3 linked regions of the Homo sapiens genome follow. The protein of the gene in region 2 purifies or fractionates together with the protein of the main gene of each other region. This does not show direct contact. Each region holds a gene or a part of one and is shown on either strand. Other genes may lie near its edges.

Region 1 (8,274 bases), on a different chromosome or scaffold from region 2:
GTGGAGGGTGCAGTGAGCTGAGGTGGTGCCACTGCACTCTAGCCTGGGCGAAAGAGTGAGACTCTGTTTAAAACAACCAACCAACCAACCAACCAAAAAAAAAAACACAAACCTTTGATAATCCACAACGCTTTAGGGAGTGAAAAGGTGTTGGGTTTTTCATTGTTGTTATTTTGAAACAATCTCGCTCTGTCGCCAGGTTGGAGTGCAGTGGCACGATCTCGGCTCACTGCAATCTCCAGGCTCCCTGGTTCAAGCAATTCTCCTGCCTCAGCCTCCCAAATAGCTGGGATTACAGGTGTGCGATACCACGACTGGCTAATTTTTGTATTTTTAGTAGAGACAGGGTTTCACTATGTTGGCCAGGATGGTCTCCATCTCCTGACCTCGTGATCCACCCGCCTCAGCCTCCCAAAGTACTGGGATTACAGGCATGAGCCACTGCGCCCACTGGCCTCGTTGTTTTAAAGACAACTATGAGTTAATTCCTTAGAACAGTAGGATTCTGAAATTTTAAGCCTAGTTAGAAATCTACCACGTGACTGTATCAATGCCATCTTAAGGAGTCAGGGATGTGTATGCAGAATGGAAATCTAACTTACTGATTAGCCAGAGTCACCATGACAAAGCAGTTATGATCATGGGATTTGGCTGTACATACTTAGTATAGATAATGGGGATCTTAGGACTGAATTGGCACCATCCCTTGTAGTGATCTGCAACTTTTATTTTCAAACAGTTCCTACTGGCTAAATGACAACTTCAGAGAATGAACACATCTCATCCACAGAGTCAAGAACAGAGCAAGAGCTCAGTAGGTGTCACCTAGAAGGATTATAATACATTGCTGTACACTACTGGGAAATCAATGTAGTTTAACACTGTTCTGCACCCTGCCAAAGGCACCAAGTAAGTACATCACAATAACAAAAATCCATAAAGAGAGCCCAGGAGCTTATCCAAGTCAGTATGGACATAAGATCTTTCTAAGCTTCAATAAATAACGTCAACAATAACCCTGGATCATATGACTAAAGAGATAGAATCTTCACTGACTTTTGACCTTTCTTTCCCCTCATTTTTAAAGCATCCCTTCAACCTTCTTGCAGATAGGTTAAGTACAGTTATCACCAGATCAGAGTTTGTAACAGGTCCATAAAAGGAAGGTACAGCCTTATTGTACTCTTAGAATCATAACTGAACCCCTATTCTCTAATTCCATCTTTGGAAATTGGATGGAGAGATTTTGTCACTGGCAAGGATCCTGTCCCAATTACTCTGTATTGCACACAGGACAGCCTCAAACTGGACAGAGAAACGAGAATTAGTGACAGTGGAATGAGGAAAGCTAGCATGTCTCATCAGCACCTCAGTGGTGGATTACCAACCCATGCCTCAGTTGCCTTCTCTAAAATAATGAGCTCTACCTCTCAGAGATAGAACCAAGTAAGAAGGAAAAACGTGATCGTGCTTAAAAAAGGTAAATGCCCATAAAATGTAAGGTAACTGGCTGGCAAACAAGTTTTCACCGGGTTTCTTTTGGAGGTCCATAGCATTTTACCTTTCCCTCTATTATGCTTAGAACACTGCGCCATCAAAACTTCTTCGGAAAGGTCTTAACCTCGCTTATATTTCAAGAGTACCTTTTTTATTTTATTTTTTAATTTGTTTTTTTTTTTGAGACAAGGTCTCATTTTGTTGCCCAGGCTGGAGTGCAGTGGCACCACTGTAGCTCATTGTCACCTCTATCTCCTGGGCTCAAGCTATCTTCCTGTTTCAGCCTGTGGGGTAGCTGGAACTACCACAGGCCACTATGCCCGGCTCTTTTTTTTAATTTTTATTTTTTAAATAAAGATGGGGTCTCACCATGTTGGCCAGGCTGGTCTTAAACTTCTGGGCTCAAGCGATCCTCCCAAAGTGTTAGGATTACAGGCATGAGCCACTGTGCTTGGCCCATTCCAAGTGTACCTTTAAATCCTCTGAAAATGTATGCAATATTACATGTGATGTGTATTTCCCTGGGAACAGCATCTGTAGACTCGTGAAGTCTGTTCTTGTGGACAGATGCATGCCTGTTCTGTTTTATGATTGTTCACCAGCCCTGTCCCCAAATACACACTTTTATACACGTCTCCTCCCTAAAATATCTAAGAATTACTAGTTTAAACCCTGGGTTCCCTGCAAAGTGGAACTGGTTTTATTTTTTGGACAGCAATCTTGCTCAGTGATTAAGACCTGGCGCTCCAGTGCGTCACAACTAGGTTCCCATGCTGTGTCTCTTTCCAGTGAAATCACTTTGAGCTATTTCACTTCTCAGTACCTCGTTTCCCAGTCTATGAAATGGGCATAGGGTTGTTACAATCAGGTAACACACAGGCTGAGTTGAGTAGTGCCTGACACATGAGGCTCAATGATAACTATTATTACTATTACTTGTCTGGACATTTGCTTCAAAGTAAACAGCGTACAAATGTCATTAATGACTCAAACATAACTAGCTTAGAGTATCTTTTCCTGAAAAGACAGGAGAATGGCCAGGCCAGCAAACTTTTTGCCTCTAGTTTCTTCTGATGAAAAAGGGGCCAGGCGCTCACACCTGTAATCCCAGCACTTTGAGGGGGCCAAGGCAGGAGGATAGCTTGAGACCAGGAGTTCGACAGTAAGACCCCGTGTCTACAAAAAATACAAAAATTAGCCGGGCGTAGTGAAGAGCCCCTGTATTCCCACCTGCTCTGGAAGCTGAGGTGGGAGGATAGCTGGAGTCCCGGAGTTCGAAGCTGCAGTGAGCTGTGATCGCGCTACTGCACTCCAGCCTGGGCGACAGAGAGACCCTCTCTTTAAAAAAAAAAAAAAAAAGCAAGGAGGGGAGGGCTACTTAACAGGTTGTTGTAAGGACCCAACGAGACAACCAAGCAAATTGTTTAGGGCAGTGCCTAACCCAATAGGGGTTGTGGGAATTGTAGTCATCAGCCCTGAGTGCCAAGCCTGGTCCAAGTCCTCCAGCCCCCGGCAGGGTCCAAGAAGATGAGCCAGGGGCCCAAGATGCAGGCCTGTAGGCCTCTTAGATGCCTGAAGATTACGCAACTCCTCCTTTAGCTCCAAACTGGCTTAAAACTCGCCAGTGGGCAACCTCTTCCCCATAAGAGCTCCCCGCGCACGGGCCAAGACAGCAGCCAGACGCTCCCCGCAGGCCCTCACACCGAAGAATGACGCCTGTAAAAGCCAACCCATGTGTTCCGCGCGCTCTCCTCCCATCCCATCCTTTCCACAAGATGAAGGCCCGACGCTTCCCATGTGGAGGCCTCCCTGCTCGCACTCACCAGCCTTCAACTCTGCCACAGTCGCCATTTTTCAACGGCCGCCAGGGCCGCACCGCGGCCCTGCGCACGCGCAGCTCCGCCCCACTCACCCTGCGGCGTGGTCTGTAGCCAATAGGCGCACAGCTCTCGCCCCGCCCACTTCCGCCCCTCTCAGTTTATGAGCTCTGCGGTTGAGTGGGTAGTGAATGTCGACCAGAGACTCCACCAATCAGCGAGCGCTCTCGGAAGGCCCAGTTGAGTGAGACGGCAGGGAGGGCGGGGACTGAGGCAGTGGAGAGCCCTGTGGGGTGCTGCTGGCACCTTAGTGCTTAACTTTAGCCAGCTGAGTTTTTCATTGTCTCTGCAGCCTCAAGTACCAACTGCTAGTAGTTACCACCTATTAACCCTGCGGTTCTCAAACTTGAGCATGAATCCTCATCACCTCCAAGACTTGTTTAAACGGATTGTTTGCTAGTCCTCCCCATAGAGTTTCTGATTCTGTAAATCTGGGGTGAGGCCCTAGGATTTGCATTTCTATCGAGTTCCCAGGTGGTACTGGTACTGCTGGTCGGTCTGGAGATCACACCTCGAGAACCACTGTATTAAGCACTTACTGTGACGCCTTAGCGCATTATTTCCTTATGATCACGCCGTTTTTACAATGAAGGAAACAGAGTCCTCCATCGCTGAAGAGACTTAACCAAGGTCACCAGCCTGTCCTCTTCCACTCGCACTTACACAGTGCATGTAAGGAGTCCAGGAGCTTTTTATGGAACTAACTAATGAAGGAATAAGCTCCAACATCCCATGGAAGTAAAGGAAAAGGAACAGGGGAATAATGTACCCTAAACTGAGTGTGAGGTTGCATGATTCCAGTTGTAATGCCGGTGAGATCCAAACACTTGGCTAAATAATAAACATCGATTAGACGTACACCTAAGAGTGGCCGGGCGCGGTGGCTCACGCCTGTAATCCCAGCACTTTGGGAGGCCGAGGCGGGCGGATCCCGAGGTCAGGAGATCGAGACCATCCTGGCTAACACGGTGAAACCCTGTCTCTACTAAAAATACAAAAAATTAGCCGGGCGTGCTGGCGGGCGCCTGTACTCCCAGCTACTCGGGAGGCTGAGGCAGGAGAATGGCGTGAACCCGGGAGGTGGAGCTTGCAGTGAGCCGAGATGGCACCACTGCACTCCAGCCTGGGCGACAGAGTGAGACTCCGTCTCAAAAAAAAAAAAAAAAAAGTACACCTAAGAGCTGCCAGGGCACGGTGGTTTACGCCTGGAATCCCAGCACTTTGGGAGACTGAGGTAAGGAGTTCGAGAACAGCCTGGCCAGCCTGGTGAAACCCCCTCTGTACTAAAAAAAAAGTACAAAAATTAGCCGGGCGTGGTAGCAGGAGCCTGTAATCCCAGCTACTTGGGAGGCTGAGGCACAAGAATCGCTTGAACCTGGGAGGCAGAGGTTGCAGTGAGATGAGATCGCGCTACTGCACTCCAACCTGGACGACAGAGCGAGACACCGCCTCAAAAAAAAAAAAAAAAAAAAACCACCTAAGAGCAAGGAAACCTCTTTCCGAGGAACTTCCAGCATACTTTTGGTTCCATGCCTATTGTTTTTAAAACTGATACATTGGCCAGGTGCGGTGGCTCATCCCTGTAATCCCAGCACTTTGGGAGGACGAGGAGGGAGGATTGCTTAAGCTCGGGAGTTTGAGATCAGCCTGGGCAATGCAAGACCCCATCTCTCCAAAATAAATACAAAAAATTAGCCGGGCATGGTGGTGCATGCCTGTAGTCCCAGTTACTCCAGAGGCCGAGGATAGAGGATTGCTTGAGCTCAGGAGTTCTAGACCAAGCTGGGCAACATGAGACGCATTTCTACAAAAAAAAAAAAAAATTAGCCAGATATGATGGTGCATGCCAGCTACTCGAGAGGCTGAGGAGAGAGGATCACTTGAGCCTGGACGGCTGATTGTACCACTGCACTCCACTCTGGGCGACAGAGTGAGTCCCTTTCTCAAAAAAAAAAAAAAAAAAAAAAAAAAAAGAAAAGAAAAAGAGAGAAAGAAAAATTGATATATCACAATTATGGGGAGGGACGTGATATTTTGATACACATATACAATGTGTAATTATCAAGTCAAGGCAATTGGGATAAACATCACCTCAAACATTCTTTGTGTTGGAAGCATTACAAGTATTCTAGCTATTTTGAAATATACAATCAATAATTGTTAACTATTTTTTTTAAAGGGAGGGGGAACAGCCTGGGCAGCATAGGGAGAACCTGTCTTTAAAAACGAGCAAACAAGGCCGGGTGCGGTGGTTCACGCTTGTAATCCCAGCACTTTGGGAGGCCTGAGGCAGGCAGATCACAAGGTCAGGAATTCGAGACCAGCCTGGCCAACACAGTGAAACCCCATCTCTACTAAAAATACAAAAATTAGCCGGGCGTGGTGGCAGAGGCCTGTAATCCCAGCTATTCGGGAGGCTGAGGCAGGAAAATTGCTTGAACCCAGGAGGCAGAGGTTGCAGTGAGCCAGGGGTGCAGAGGTTGCACTCCAGCCTGGGGAACAGAGTAAGACTCCGACTCAAAACAAAACAAAACAAAACAAAAGAGCAAACAGCCAGGCACGGTGGCTCACGCTTGTAATCCCAGCACTTTGGGAGGCCGAGGAGGGCAGATCACCTGAGGTCAGGAGTTTGAGACCAGCCTGGCCGACATGGTGAAACCCCATTTCTACCAAAAATACAAAAATTAGCTGGGCATGGTGGCAGGCATCTGTAATCCCAGCTACTCGGGAGGCTGAGGCAGGAGAATCGTTTGAACCTGGGAGGTGGAGGTTGCAGTGAGCCGAGATCACGCCGCTGTGCTCCAGCCTGGGCGACAAGAGTGAAACTCCGTGTCAAAAAAAACCAAAACGAACAAACAAACAAAAAAACCGAGCAAACAAAACAAAAAATTAGCCTGGCATGTGTCCCTGTAGTCCGAGCTACTCGGGAGGCTGAGGCAGGAGGATTGCTTGAGCCTAGGAGGTGGAGGCTACAGTGAGCCATGACCATAACACTGCATTTCTAGCCTGGTGACAAGGGGAGATGCCTTTTCTTTCCCTTCCTTCCTTCCTTCCTTCCTTCTTTCCTTCCTTCCTTTCCTCCCTCCTCTCTCTCTCCTTCCTTCCTTCCTCCCCGCCCTTTCCCTTTCCTTCCTTCCTTCCCTCCCTCCCTCCCTCTTTCTCTCTTTCTCTTTCTTTCTTTCTTTCTTTTCTTTCTTTCTTTCTCTCTCTCTTTCCTCTTTCTCTCTTACTTTTTCTTGAGACTTAAAAAAAAAGGGGGGCCAGGCAGAGTATCTTGACCTAGAGTCTAGGATAATGCTCTTTAAACTGCTGGTTAACCAAATAGTAGGTTTTGAAATCTATTTATTAGTAGATCCCCATGAGTACATTTTCAGTGAAATGGAATGTAACAAATAGAAAACATAGAAGTATGGTTTTCTAGAACTTTCCTTTCAGGTACACATGTGTGTTCTGGTACCTGTTGTATTTCTTAAAGTGATCAGCCATCAGAAAAGTTTGAAAGTGATTGTAACCTAGAGGAATCTCTTCCTATTCCAAACTGGATTAATTTTTGACTGGATTAATTTTTGATTATGGGACACATATCTGTTCTGTAACCTTGAAAAGGTCCTATCTTGTTTCTCTACTCTGTAAAACCACAGTGACTGAATACCTGGCCAGCATTTCAAGAGATTTTTGGGGATTAACTAAATTCCATAGGTGGTATTTTTAAGTCCCTCAGAAAAAGCACTCCTGTGGTGTTATGATATAGGTATTGATTTTCATCTCCACGATTCCTGGCATCTAACTCCCATTCACCTCATTATAATGTTGAGGCACTTTAGGCCTCAGGAAACAGAATCTCCCTCTCTGATCTTCTCCTGTCCACCTCTGACCTGCCCCAAGCAGGACTCTAATCTGACTGTGGGTCAAAAGACCCTCATTCCAGAAAGGGTTCTGCCTGCTACCCTCAAGGAAGAAATGCTGCACAGAGAGCCCAAGAAAAGTCTGAGCAGACAGGCTTTGCTGGGTTTAGATCAGGCACTTTCTGTCCAATCAGATTTCTTTCTTTTTTTTTTTTTTTTTTGAGACGGAGTCTTGCTCTGTCGCCCAGGCTGGAGTGCAGTGGTACAGTCTCCGTTCACTGCAACCTCTCCCTCCTGGGTTCAAGCGATTCTCCTGTCTCAACCACCCAAGTAGCTGGGATTACAGGTGTGCACCACCATGCCTGGCTAATTTTTTTTTTTTTCCAGACAGAGTTCCGCTCTTGTTGCCCAGGTTGGAGTGCAATGGCACGATCTCGGTTCACCTCAACCTCTGCTTCCCGGGCTCAAGCAATTCTCCTGCCTCAGCCTCCCAAGTAGCTGGGATTACAGGCATGTACAACCACACCTGGCTAATTTTGTATTTTTAGTAGAGATGGGGTTTCTCCATGTTAGTCAGGCTGGTGTCGAACTCCCGACCTCAGGTGATCCGCCCACCTCGGCCTCCCAAAGTGCTGGGATTACAGGCGTGAGCCACCACGTCTGGCCTGTCCAATCACATTTCTACACGGTGTTCAATCACACCTATGTAATAAAGTGTCCCATAAAAACCCAAGAGAACTGGGTTGGGAGAACTTCTGGATAGCAGAACACGTGGAGGTTGTTGAAGGGTGTTGCATTCAGGGAAAGCATGGAAGCTCCACACCCCTTCCCCTATACTTTGCCCTATGTGTCACTTCATCTGTATAAACAAAATTAAGTGTTTCCCTGAATTCTTTGAGCCACTCCAGCAAATTAATGGAACCCAAAATGGGGGTTGTGGAAGCTCCAACTTGAAGGCGGTCCATCAGAAGTTTCAGAGGCCCAAACTTGCGACTGGTGTCTGAAGGAAGGCAGTCTTGGGGACTGAGCTATCACCCTGTGGGAAATGACACTAT
Region 2 (4,868 bases):
ATAATCTGTTTAAACTCTTACCTCTCAACATGATTATGCATTTGGATTCTCTGCGTCTGACCTTTCTTAGTGAGGCCCAGCCTTTGTCACTATTGACACATGGCCATTCCTAAATGAGGTGCTGACTCTAGATCATCACCCTTCCTTCATGCATGGCAGAACAATCAGGAGGCTCAATTAGTGTGCTATTTGTCACACTACTTAGTATCTTCTGTTTAAGTAGCATTTTGTGCAATTATTTAAGTCACATGAGTCACCAGAGGAAAACTGTAAATAATGGTTAGATAAAATCACAAGCAGCCTCTTAATTACCCATAGTGATCCTGCCACGAAACCTAGGACCCTTTAGAGGGTTCAGTAGAGATTTTTTTCCAGTTCTGCCTTGTAAAACTTGATTTTTTAAGAGATGAAGTCAATTATAGGGAAGGAGCCCATTCATTTAAAAACAAAGGAAATACGCCCATTCATTAAGTATGAGGACCAAAGGTTCCATAATAAAGATGCTATCTCAGTCTGTTCCTGCTGCTATAGCAAAATACCTTAGACTGGGTAACTTACAAAGACCAGAAATGTATTTCTTACAGTTTTAGAGGCTGGGAAGTCGAAGATCAAGGAAGGCACTGGCAGGTTCGATGTCTGGTGAAGGCCCGGTCTCGGCTTCCAAGATGGTGCCTTGTTGCTGTGTTCTCCAGAGGGGATCAATGCAGTGTCTTCAAATGGTGCAAGGGCAAAAGGGCCTAGCTAGTTCCATTGAGCCCTTTTATAAGGTCACTAATCCCACTCTTAGTCACCTGCAAAAGGTGCCACCTCTTAATTCTATCACACGGGGGGGTTTAAATTCCAACATATGAATTTTGGAGGGACACATACATACAAACCACAGACATCAGAAGTAAAGACCAGAGGCAGTATCTTTCTTACTATTTCTAATGCCTAGAAAAATCTGTTTTTATGTTCAGGGACAAAACAGGAGTGTGCTAGGAAAAATGACCTCCTGTTTTACAGGTGGCAGCCCAACTTTGGAGAGGAAAGAACACAGCTTATACTTCCAAAATGTAGGCCTGCAGTTGAGCAGTAAGATAGGTTATACTCATTTATAAATTTAAGACAAAAATAAGGAGGTTAAAAGCCAGTTACTTTTATTATAATGAATGAGAAATACTATGACTGGAGAAGAGGTTTCACGTGACTAGATTATTCTTGGTTCACACACTATGGTATCAAAATTAATTATGGAAAAAAAAACCCACATTGGATTACACACATTTTTATTGAGTTTTGTCTGATGATAGGGAAACATTTACAAAGGAGTAAATGTTACGTAACTTCTCACGGTATGTAAGTTAGAAGCTGGGCAGCAAACATGGTTACCAAGAGTCGTCTAGTTCTTCATGAGAAAAGCCTGTTAAACTAAATTAGGGAAAGATAAAAATTAAAATGTAAAAATTTGTGTCAAGTTTATTTGCTATCTTCATAATGTTCTCAATTCCTTCCCTGGGGGGTTTCTGCCCTAGTTTACAATTTATATCAGGATCAATTTCACAAGTCAAAAAACTCAATTGTTTTTATAGTCACTAATTTTGACTGATTCAATAACTTCTTACAGGCAATCTCAAACATCTGTTTCTCTTGGCTGACAAAATAAGCAATTAACAGTTTGTGTATGAAAGTGTGTAGGGAAAACAGGTACCTTTCGACTTTGTCACTAGATTGCAGCGTGTCCACTAGGGAGCCTTCTTGGACCATCTTTTTTGAGCTCTGATTACATGGAGAGGGTGGAAAATTTTGAAATTAGATATGCATTAATTTCATGAAATACTTTAAGAACCATTTTTGAAATATATATGTAATTTAAAAGTCTAAAAAAGAGGTGACTTTTAAACATGAAATTTAGCAAGCACATCAAAATAAACTATAGGGTATGCATTTAACACCCATAATACTTCAGACTTACATAAAATATTAATGTCAGTATTAATGCATTTGATAGATCTTTTCTTTCTTAATGAGCCACCCCAACTTTTACAAATTAAAATCTCTTAAATCTTTTACCTTAAGCAAAAAAGCTATGAATTTTTGTCAAAAGAATAGTATATTTAAAAGACTCAAGGTTCCATTTGAACTTTGGATTTTCTATACTTTTCACCTTTTTGTCTTCAATGGAGAAGACGGATTCCCGTCCCAAGAAGTTAAGCCACGGAAGCCCTGGATGTCCCCCACCCACAGATTGCCCTGCCCATGGCACTGGCACCTTATCTGCCGACTCCTGGTCTTGCTCCTGCTGGATGATTTTCATGTATTTCTCTAAAGGATTTTCACTGTGAGCAGATTTGTCTTTTATTTCTTGATTACTCATTTCTAATTCATTTTCCATTTCTAATTCCTTTTTTATTTTAATCTTCAGTGATTCTTCAATCATCTTCTATAAAACAGGCACCAAAACAGAAAATACACAAATACATTTGTAAAACTTTTAAGTGTTTTAAAAATGCACTAATATTAATCCCGATCCTTCAAGTACAGCCTGTATGCCAGAGGACTAATTTTTAAAATTGAAGTCATTGCTATCATCAAAGGAAGACAAATATGTCATCTCAATGAAGGAAGGTATTAATTGGCAAGTGTCCTGTGCTTTGGACTTGAATTAACCAAGAGTCCAAGGAACATTCATATGTTAGAGTAATTCAAGCAAGACTTAGCAGGTGTGTTAAGTGGACAGAGTAATCCATCTGCTAGGACTAGAATTGGGACACAGAAGGCAAGAAGAGAAATAGAGGAAGGAGGGAGGGAGTGTGTGCCCCTGGAAGCAACTGTGAACTGGCAGCCACTCCTCCCTTGGGTTCTAGTCCCAGCTAGCTGGCACTGACAGTCTCTTCTTTAAACCCTGTTTTCAAAGCAAAGTTCTGCAGCAAAGCACAGTCTACCTTTTTTACAGGCTTGTTTTAAGGATCAGATGAGAATGTACAAAAATTACCTTCAAAAACTATCCTTTACTACAAAACTCCTAAGCTTCACATTCTGTGCAGCCTTTCCCACTGCTTTTAAGACAAGGAGAGGACAGGGATGCCTTTTAAGGCATCTGCCGCACCTCTGACTTTGTACACCAATTGACTCCCCTCCCTGAGCTCAATGTACTTACGAAAGGTGTACAATGGAGCAACCAGTTCAGAGAATCAAGTCATACTTATTACCCTTTCCTGATACAGTTTTTCTAGTTCTCTTCGTTCCCTTTCTAAAACTTCTTGTAGGTTACTCTGCCTTCTTTCTTCTCTCTGCCTTCGTTCTTTCACTTGCTGTTCCCGTATTTTTTCTTCTTCCTTTTGTTCTTCAATTTGTTTCTGATCTACACCTAATAGGACAGAAAATAAAGAGTAGCTTCCAGTATCAGATTATTCAAATGAATGCAGGACCAGTCTGCAGGAGCCCTTGCCAAGACCCACGGAGACTCTGCTTGGCTTTTAGTTGACTCTGTGACCTGCTTCAAGTCACTATTTCATTTTCACCGACTTCAAGCTCCCGACCCCACTCCTTGAACTGTACCCTACTTCACTTGACTGAGACAAATACGTCACCCTCACCATAACCAACTCCAACTGTCCTCCTTCCATGTCACATGTTCTCATCCTCTTCACAGATCTCCTCCCTCCTTTCCAAGGCAAACCCTGCATTTCTGCCTCTGCCTTTGATTATAATCCCTCCCCTATCTTTAGGACCCAGACTGAGCCATTAATCCCTATTTCTGTACACAGTAGTTTTAGAAGTCTTACTCCCATAAAGATGCTCAAGTCTGTCCTACCCCAACAAAACAGAACAGAAATCACACCACTGCCCTCCCCCCGCCATTCCAGCCATCTCACTGTTCATTCCCCACTTCCTCCAAACTGACGGCAGCCCTTCCTGGGGTTTTAGCCATCACTTGTATATGGATCCTTTCCCTATCTTTTCCTCTACTCCTGGTCTCTCTCCCTAGCCTCGCGTCCACATTTCTGATAGTTCCTTGCCATCCGCATGTGGAAACCCCACAGCACTAGCTTCGTCCCAGGCATGATCATCCCGGTCCTTCGATCATGCTCTTTCTACCCTCTATCCACTCAGCCACCAGTGTTTGCAGGTTCACACTCCCTGTCCTGTGGCTGCAACAGGGGCCCTTCTCACCATCTCCCTGGACTACTGAAACAGCCCAGTCAAGGCTCTTCCTGAAGCCAGTCTCTGCCTTCCAACAACCTGTGGTCATCTGCACCAGGCATTTCCTGAGGGGAAGATGTGGATCTGCTGTGCAGCATCTCCGCTCTGATAAGAGTCCTACGCCATGGTAGTCTGGGCTCTGACAACCTGCCCTTTTCTTCCCAGATTGATTTCCTACATCACCACCAACTTTGTACGAGAAATATTTCATCTGTACCAACCCACTCACTGGGGCCTGGCCGTGGCTCTATCTTCCTTGCTTGACATTCACCTTCACTGTCTCCTCAGCCTGTAGCACTCCCTTGCTCTCACAAAGTCTGAAATGCTATTCAAGACCCAACTGAAATGCCACCTCCTCCTTATTCCTGAAGTGACAACTAACCACTCCAGCATCTCACTTGCAGGATATCTTGTACCTGATCTGTCAAAAACTACATGTACTTGTTTCTTCCACTTCTATTCCTTCCAGGCAAGGTCCATACTTTAATTACTTGTCTGTTCCCTCTGCATCTTGGCACAGGTCCCTATATCTCAAAAGTTTTAATTAGACCCCAATCCCAGAGACAATTATGCTGACCTTTCTCTTCTGGCTCTGACCCATAACCTACATTTTTTTTTTCAACCCAAGCAATGCTAATAAGTAGAAAAATTCATAGGTTCAGCAGAGGACTTTGAACCTTTTT
Region 3 (7,758 bases), on a different chromosome or scaffold from region 2:
TTCTGCTACCAGATGGGATGGGAAAGTTGGACTTGCGTGTTGCTGAGGGCGGGGCCTGGGCCCCCAAGCCCAGGCATTCAGAGCCTAAGCTGGCAGCCTCCTGGAAGCCTCTGAAAACTCCCAGAGTTTCATCTGTCCAGCCCTGGGCCCCACAGGGCTACGTCGGGAGCATGCTACTGGGCCCAGAGGCATCCACTGCCAAAGCCTGCCTGGCTGCTCGGTGACATCCCAGCCCACCAGGGTGTGAAACCAGGTGACGGGCACGGTCAGCCTGGACTGTAGCCTCGCGGCGGGCATGGGTGGTGAGAATGTGTGTGGGACTGTCACCGTGGCAGAGTCCACCCCCCACAGAAGGCCCCAGAGGCTAAGGGGGGAGCCCCTGTTGTGCGTGTCCCTCTCGGTACATCTGAGTGTCAGTGGGCTGGTCGTGGGGCGCAGGGGTGTAGCAGCCCCTAGCGAGAGGGGCAACGCCTGTTCTCGGACCACAGAGGATGCGCTCCAGGCACCCTTGATCCTTCCAGAGCCCACGCAAAAGATGGGCTGAAAGCAACACACTCAGCGTCAGTTCAGACAACAACCCCAAGCAGCCAGATGTGACTCCCAGAAACGAGCCCCCAGGATGCCACAGCAGCAGCAAAACCCACCTGGGGCAGCCCCCAACTCCTGCCCACGCAGGGCAGCCCCCAACCCCTGCCCACCTGGGTGCCCAGGCCCCCACCTCCTTCCTGGTGCGGCCGGCCTCCCACGCCTGCCTCTCCAGCTCCAGCTGCTGCTTCAGGGTATTCAGCTCCATCTGGGGGGCGGACATAAGAGGCCAGTCAGTCCCACCCCGTGCAGCCCCCTGGCCAGGCCCAGCACAGCCCTCCGGTGGTAGACCTGGTGCCGGCGCTCCTGCTCCTCCCTGCCCTTCTCAAACTCAGCCCTCAGGGCTCGGGTCAGTGCAGAGCTGCTCTCCTCCAGCTGCTGCCTCAGCTCTTCCAGCTCCGCCCGCTGCCTGCGGCCAGGGAGGAGTCAGCAGGTGAGGGGTCATCGAGTAAGGAGTCAGGGATGGGAGAGGTCAGCGGGTGAGGGGGCGGGGGGGAGGGGTCAGCCAGCGAGGGGTCCCTGGGAGAGGGCGTGGTGCCCCCGGGCGGCACCTGGCTGCCTGCTGGCCCAGCCGCTCCCTCTCCTCAGCCACCTCACTGTACAGCCGCTGCCGTTGCTGCTGCAGCGCCCACTGCTCCTGCTCCAGGTGCTGCTGGAACCTGCGGGACGGTCAGGACTGGCTCTCGGGGGCCGGGACGGGCGGTCCCAGGACCCACCCACCGCAGGGGCACGGGCCGACCACAGGCCTGACTCACAGCTGGAGAGCAGCCCTCCGGGGCCCTGCCCCTCCCCCTCGGCAGTCAAGGCCCCTCAAAGCCACCGCCCGGGGGCAGGCAAGGCCACGAGGAACTTGCCCATCAGCCAAGCGCAGCAATTCCCTGAGCTCCAGGCCCTCGTGGCACTTTGGGAAGTGGCTGTGGAGCCGCGTCCAGGCCCCCTTTTCCCTCAGCCCGTGTGCCGGCCTCACCCTGTTCAGCATTGCCCCACGGGCATGGAGGGCGGGAGGCAGGTGCCTCGTGGGGCCTTATCCACCTCCCCTGCCTCCGGCCTGAGGGTGCCAGGTGCCTGGCTCCGTGACCTGAGCAAGCTCGCGCCAGGGCCTCGTCCTGACCCCACCTTCGAGGAGAGACTGGGGGACCAGCCAAGCTGCATCTGGGGAGGACCAGCCACGACAGGCAACAGGGTGGATAGGAGAGGGTGGCTTCCAGGCTGTCCTGGTGGCGCAGACAGTGCAGGAGGGGCTGCCACTGCCCCCTGTGGCCCGCAGATCCTGACCACCACTGGGCACGTCCCCAGCCCCCAGGGCTCAGGACGCAAGAGCAGCAGTCACCCCTCAGACCCCAGGCCAAGGGAGTGAATGAGAGAGACCGTCCCTGGGCCCCAAGGTCAGAGCTGGAGGGGCCTCGAGGCCGCCTATCCACGGGTTGCTGCTCTGGGGCCAGTTGTGAAAGAGTGGATGTCTGGTGGGGGTTCCCAGCCCTGACCCTGGGAAAACACCCGTGCACCCATGCAGAACCTGCAGACCTCGGCGGGCATGAACTGCAGACACAAGCCCGAGGACACTGGCCCGGCTGAGGCTGGGCCCCCAAGGGCCACTCCAGGGCCAAGGGCCCTGCGTCCTCCCTGCATGCTGCACTAAGACCCTCGCCCACCTCTACATGGGAACTCCACTCCAGCCTTCGAGGATTCCGACTCCCCGCCCTGAGGGTCCTGGCCCCACCGGCCTGGGGCCACCACCCACCGCTGCCGAGCACGTTCGCGCTCCTGCTGGCCCAGCGCCTCCTTCTCCCGCTCCAGCTGCTCCCGCAGCTCCTCGGCCTGGCGCAGGCAGCGCTGCGAGGCCCGCTCATCCGACTGCAGCAGCTCCGCCTCGTGCAGGCTCTTGAGCCTCCGCACTTCCTGCTTGTGCCTTGCAATCAGCTTCTGGATCTCGGGCTCCAGACCTGGGGGCGGGGCACCAGCTAGGGCCACGTCCAGCTAGGGTGGGCCCGGGAAGTCCAACCCTGGCACAAGACCAGCCTGTCTCAGGCCCAGAGGGGACCCCGCCCACCCAGGGCCTCCTTGGATCCAACCCGAAGCACAGCTGAGTCTTGACGCCCACGAGGTGGGGAAGAGACCCCCACAGGGCCACGGCGCCTCTCCCAGCCTGTGGGGCTCAGGGCTCCTGACACTCCTGGTGCTACCACTGACGGCTCCCAGGCACCCTGGCAGGTGTCCAGAGCGAGAGGACCAGGCCTCGGGGAGCCCTGCACATCACCCAAGGGTCCGAGGCCCCTTCAGACCACAACACCCACCAGCCTCCTGCCCCATCCGCCTGCCTGCCCCTGCCTCCTCCTGTGGCTCACTCTGCTTCCCGTGGCAGGGCCCACGTGCCACAGTCGTCCACAAACTCCCAATCTCCCCTAGCCCAACCCTGAGGAAGTGAGGCACTGAGCCCCCTCGTTTCAGGCAACTGCCTAGATGCTGGGGGCTGGGCCAGGCTCCTGTGTGGAGCCCACCTGCCCCCCGGGTCACGGCAGAAGCCGCAGCGGAGGCCGTGACGGGGGTGGTTGGGGCATGAGTGTTCACCTCTGCCCAGGAAGGTCTCGGACTACATGAATGCCTGAAGTTATGGCTCTCTCAAAAGAAGCCCTGGCCGCAGCACCCACCCCACACCTGGCCGGCTCATGGGAGGGGAGGGCCCACCTCGGACAGTGACCTCCTTGATCTTCTTGGTTTTCTCACTGATCCACTTCTCCCGGCGGGCTTTCTCGGTGGCGCTCATTAATTCTTTGAGTTTTTTAATCTCCTACGAGCAGAACAGGGCAGGAGGAAACGACACGAAGGACACCCCCGTCCCTTTGCCACCCTGTGGGCACAGTCAGGGCCGGGCTTCCAGGTCCACCAGCACAAGGCCGGCACTCATGGTTGGGTGTGCTGCCCCGAGACAGAGCCACTGCTGCCCTCCCCAGCGCCCGGGGCCAGGCTGGAGGCCCAGGCCCACCCTGCCACACACCTTGGTGGCCTGAGACATGGGAGGGCAGCCATCAGCCTGCAGAGGCCTTGCCCCAGAGAGGGGTGCTGCTGCCTGTCGGGACGGCCCCAGAGCCTGCATTCTTCCATGGGACTGGCAGTCCTCAACCCCGGCTGTCAGCCACAGTCACGTGCAGGGATTTTAAAATGCCAGTGCCAAGCCCCACTCCAGAACCTGGGCTCGGGACCATCACTGCCCAAGCTGGTGGGAAGCATAGCCAGGGAGGCTGAGGCCCCCAGGGAGCTCACACAGCGGGAAGGGGCGGGGAGTCAATGCTCCACCGACACCTGGTCAGTAGAGAGAGCAGGTCCCATGGCCCAAGGACCTGGCAGTGGGGCAGACCAGGCAGAGGCTCCTGGGTCCACGGCTACCGTGCTGTGGCCGGGCAGGGACTGTGCGTCCACATCTGTGACAGCAGGCCCACGGCCCCGCCCCAGAGCCTGGCAGCTAGAGAGGCAGGAGTGGACCAGCTCGGTGCCACGGTGCTCCCCCAGACAGCCCCACCCACCGCTGTGGCCCTGACACACCGAGACAGGAATGAGGACTCCAAGTCCGGTCCTGTTCTGGGGGCTGTGCCAGCTGAGCCTGGCCTGTGAGCCGGGCTTGGGACGCCGTGCAGTAGGGAGCAAAGCCTCACCAGCTCGTGCTGCGCCTGTGCCTGGGCCACACGCTCGGTGCATCTCTGGTCCTCCTGCTTCAGCTCGGCCACCACAGCCTCGCACTTTTCACTCAGGACCTTCTTGTCCTCAATCAGCTGTGTTGGGGACCGGAGGTGAGGTGCTACACCAAGGCCCCAGCCCAGCAGGACCCCTGATGGAGGAGACCCTCCCAGCCTCCGAGGGAGGCTAACAGCAGCCCTCCCCTGGGGCTGCCCCTCCTAGGTTTGTGGATGGACCCTGGGGCCAGTGGGGGGGCACGTGTGCAAACACGGGCCCAGGCCTGCATCCGCCGTCCTGTCCTCAGCTGGGGGACCCGGCGAATGTCAGAGAAGCCCCAGCCCACCCCCTGCAGTGATGTCAGGGTCTTCCTGGGATGAGGGTAGCTCTGCCGAGGCCATCACCCAGCCCTGGAGGAGGCTCACTGTCTGCCAAAGGGTGTCAGGACCACACCAGCCTCACTGCCGGCCCCAGGCCAGACCCCAGGTCAGGACACACCTGTGACAACTATCAAGCAGCCCTGGAGGCCCCTATTCTCACACACCCCAGACCAACTCTAGGTCTCTTCTCTTCAGAACAGGAGCCAACCGGGGCTGCGACTGAGCTGAGGGGCCGGCAGGACACCCCACTACACTCACACGGGGCGGCTCTGGATAAAGACAGGAGTGCCCTCTCCAGGGCATGCATGGCTGGGAATGGCATGGGAAAGGCTTGGAATGCGTCCAGCGGACACCCGTGTGACACCCAACAGAGGAAGAAGCTCCCTGGCAGTGGGAAGCCCCTGGCTCTGGAAGTCTCCATGAGCCACGCGCTGGGTCCGGGCCTCTGCGCTCCCCGGGCCGCTCACCTGGTCAATGAAGGCCAAGTGCCGCTGGATGGTGGCCTCGTAGTGCTCCCTCTGCCGCTGCAGCTGCCGGCTCAGCGCCTTCTCTGTCTCCTTGACCCGCCGGGCCGTGAGGTCTCGCTGCTGCGCCTGCAGGGTGTGGGCAGAGGAGGGAAGCGCTAGGACCGGTGGGCCTGGCCTCAGCAGGTAGGAGGCTAGCAGGGCCCGGGATTAGCAGTGCCAGCAGCGTTACCAGCGCTCTCTGCAGCAGCAGCATGGCCTGCTTCTTCTCCTCCACCTCCAGCTTCAGCCGCATCACAGACGTGCTCACCTCGGACCCCAGCTCCAGGGGCCCCGGCCCCGCCTCCGGCACCCACCCCTGCAGACACAGCCGAGCGTCAGGCGGAAGCGGCAGAGGACGGGGGGCAGCCAAGGACCTGACACGATGCCCCTGCGGCCCTGCCCTCTGGGGACAGAGGGGCTGCTGCACACGGGAGCCCGTGGGAAGCCGGAGGGCAGGTGGCAGGCGGCCCAGCAGAGGTCGTTTTCATTGCTCAGTACAGGAAATGGGGGCCGTGGCCTCAGGAATAAAAAACAAACCATTTAAAAAGTTCTATGCTGCCCAGCTTCCTGCCCTGTGACAATAAAGTTCACGTCACTGCTCCATTTAGCCTGGCCGCTAGTGTTCACCCAGGACAAACCAACCCAGAGGACAGCAGGGCTCCAGAGGGCTGAACTATCCACACATATGGGCTCGTGGAGGCAGCTCGGGGCAGCGGGTAGGTGGGGGCAGTATGGGGAATGCGGGCCCTGCCACCTCCACCCTGAGAGACCCGTGGGGGGTGCTGCATAACTAGGTGGGTACATGGTGAGGGACCACCTCCTGCTGGGGGCCGGGTGGGGGCTGGCGAGAGACCTCCTCCCCCTGGGGGCCAGGTGCGGGCTGGTGAGGGGCCTCCTCCCCCGAGGGCCAGGTGCAGGCTCGTGAGGGGCCTCCTCCCACTGGGGGCCGGGTGCGGGCTGGTGAGGGGCCACCTCCTGCTGGGAGTCCAGCTGGTCCTGCCCAGACTTCTCCATCTCGTCCAAGAAGCTCATGATGCTTTGTAGCTTGGCCTCCGATAGCAGCGTCCCATCCTCAGGAGGTTCGGGGAACGCACTGAGTTTTCCAAATTTCTCCAAGTTGTCAGCTGTCAGAGAGCTGGCGTCATCCTCCTGTGGGACAGGAGCCCAGCATCGGGGGCTGTCAGGGCAGCCTGAGGACTTGGGTTCCCCAAAGGCAGAGGTGGCAGCTGAGGCTGGGCTCTGGGAGGGAGGGTTGTGACTAAAGCCAGGAGGAGCCTGTGGCATCCCCATTTTCCCAACCCCCACAGCCACCGCATGCTCTGTGTGAATGGCGTGGGTGGACAGACTGTGCAGGGCGGGCGCACACCGTGGTCACCTCGCTGGCCCAGGCGTATCTGCCCCTGTGATGGGTCCTGGGGCGGGGCAGCACGTCCGGCTCCTTCTCCAGCAGCTGCAGTGTGTGCAGCAGCTCCTCCAGTGGCCCCCTGGACTTGGCGCTCCCCCTGCTCGGGGCCATCATCTCCAGGTTGTCCCCAGCTGCATCCTGGGCAAGAACGTCCTGCAAAAGAGCAGGGAGACAGATGCAGCAAGGCTGCTGGTAGCTGAGAGCAGCCCCCACATAGGAGGCCAACCGCAGAGCCCCAAAGGCGCCGCGGGAGCTCCCCAGTCCCGACATTCAGCCCCAGGAAGGTGAGGCCAGGGCTCAGACCTTCCCACCCGGTCTCTGCAGCTGCTCAAACCCAGAGCAGCTCCAGCCACCAGGGGACTCCTCCCAGTGCCCCACTCCAGGAAAACAGGAGTGCAGCCACCTGGCCCCACCATTGAGCAGCCTGGGAGCCTTGGCTGTCAGGTCACCCCTCAGAGCCGGAAGCTCCTCTTTTGTGGATGAGGATGCAAGGCCCCCCACCCCAGGACATCTGCAAAAACCCAACTGGATCCACCCCAGCAAAGGCTCCCCAAGAGGCAGCCAGCACCATGCATCAGAGCAAGAAGACACCTCCTGGGTGGCCTCTCTGAGCTTAAGTGGCCCCTAGAGCAGAGGAGGGGCTGGGAGAAGCTCAGCTCAGGACACCCCTGGCACAGACATGGCCCTTAAAGCCAAAAACCATGATGGAGTGAAGGACAGCTGTGCTCAGACCTGCGTCCTGTCCTCTGGAGGCTGCTGTGGTTCTGGGGATGAGTCGGAGGTGGGCAGGCAGCGGTCTCCGGGGCCTGCAGCAGGGAGGCCACCACCTGCACAGCAGAACACAGCACCATTCCACAGGGAGCATCCCGGGGCGGGCAGCAACTCTGGAGGCACCCCCGGGAAGGAGCCAGGCATGGGGGAGGCGGAGGCGACCCCAGAAGCAGAGGAGCCGCTGGGGAGCCACGGCCTTCTGGGTGTGGAGCTGTGGAGGATGAGTGCCACCCCTCCCTTCCGGGCCTTCTACTCTGTAGGGATCCCTACGTCCAGGACCATTTGATTGTCAAGGTCTCGGCACCCTCGTCAGGTCAGCTGGGGGCCAAGGCCCCTAACTCCGAGGACTGGGGCCGCCAACATGGGCAGCAGCACAGGAGGCCGAGAGGAGGTCCACAAGGGCTGCACTTCCTTCCTGGCTGCAGTCCACCCCCCAGAGCAG

Evidence for each region.
Region 1: the proteins of OFD1 (region 2) and CEP20 purify together in Homo sapiens (co-immunoprecipitation; 3 studies listed by BioGRID and IntAct, with this or other methods). This does not show direct contact.
Region 3: the proteins of OFD1 (region 2) and CEP131 purify together in Homo sapiens (affinity purification with mass spectrometry; 2 studies listed by BioGRID and IntAct, with this or other methods). This does not show direct contact.

The regions. Positions count from the first base shown.
Region 1 is NC_000016.10:15,885,238-15,893,511, forward strand, and holds the start of CEP20 (centrosomal protein 20), read right to left. Parts: upstream 3,367-8,274; 5' UTR 3,349-3,366; coding exon 3,321-3,348; intron 1-3,320. UniProt on the Homo sapiens protein: Involved in the biogenesis of cilia. Required for the recruitment of PLK1 to centrosomes and S phase progression.
Region 2 is NC_000023.11:13,765,608-13,770,475, reverse strand, and holds the end of OFD1 (centriole and centriolar satellite protein OFD1), read right to left. Parts: intron 3,350-4,868; coding exon 3,192-3,349; intron 2,423-3,191; coding exon 2,252-2,422; intron 1,759-2,251; coding exon 1,691-1,758; intron 1,411-1,690; coding exon 1,368-1,410; 3' UTR 1,119-1,367; downstream 1-1,118. UniProt on the Homo sapiens protein: Component of the centrioles controlling mother and daughter centrioles length. Recruits to the centriole IFT88 and centriole distal appendage-specific proteins including CEP164. Involved in the biogenesis of the cilium, a centriole-associated function.
Region 3 is NC_000017.11:81,191,600-81,199,357, forward strand, and holds part of CEP131 (centrosomal protein of 131 kDa), read right to left. Parts: intron 7,373-7,758; coding exon 7,278-7,372; intron 6,699-7,277; coding exon 6,516-6,698; coding exon of another isoform or gene 6,507-6,515; intron 6,290-6,506; coding exon 6,113-6,289; intron 5,457-6,112; coding exon 5,331-5,456; intron 5,228-5,330; coding exon 5,102-5,227; intron 4,353-5,101; coding exon 4,236-4,352; intron 3,374-4,235; coding exon 3,271-3,373; intron 2,529-3,270; coding exon 2,327-2,528; intron 1,245-2,326; coding exon 1,137-1,244; intron 995-1,136; coding exon 877-994; intron 794-876; coding exon 719-793; intron 1-718. UniProt on the Homo sapiens protein: Component of centriolar satellites contributing to the building of a complex and dynamic network required to regulate cilia/flagellum formation.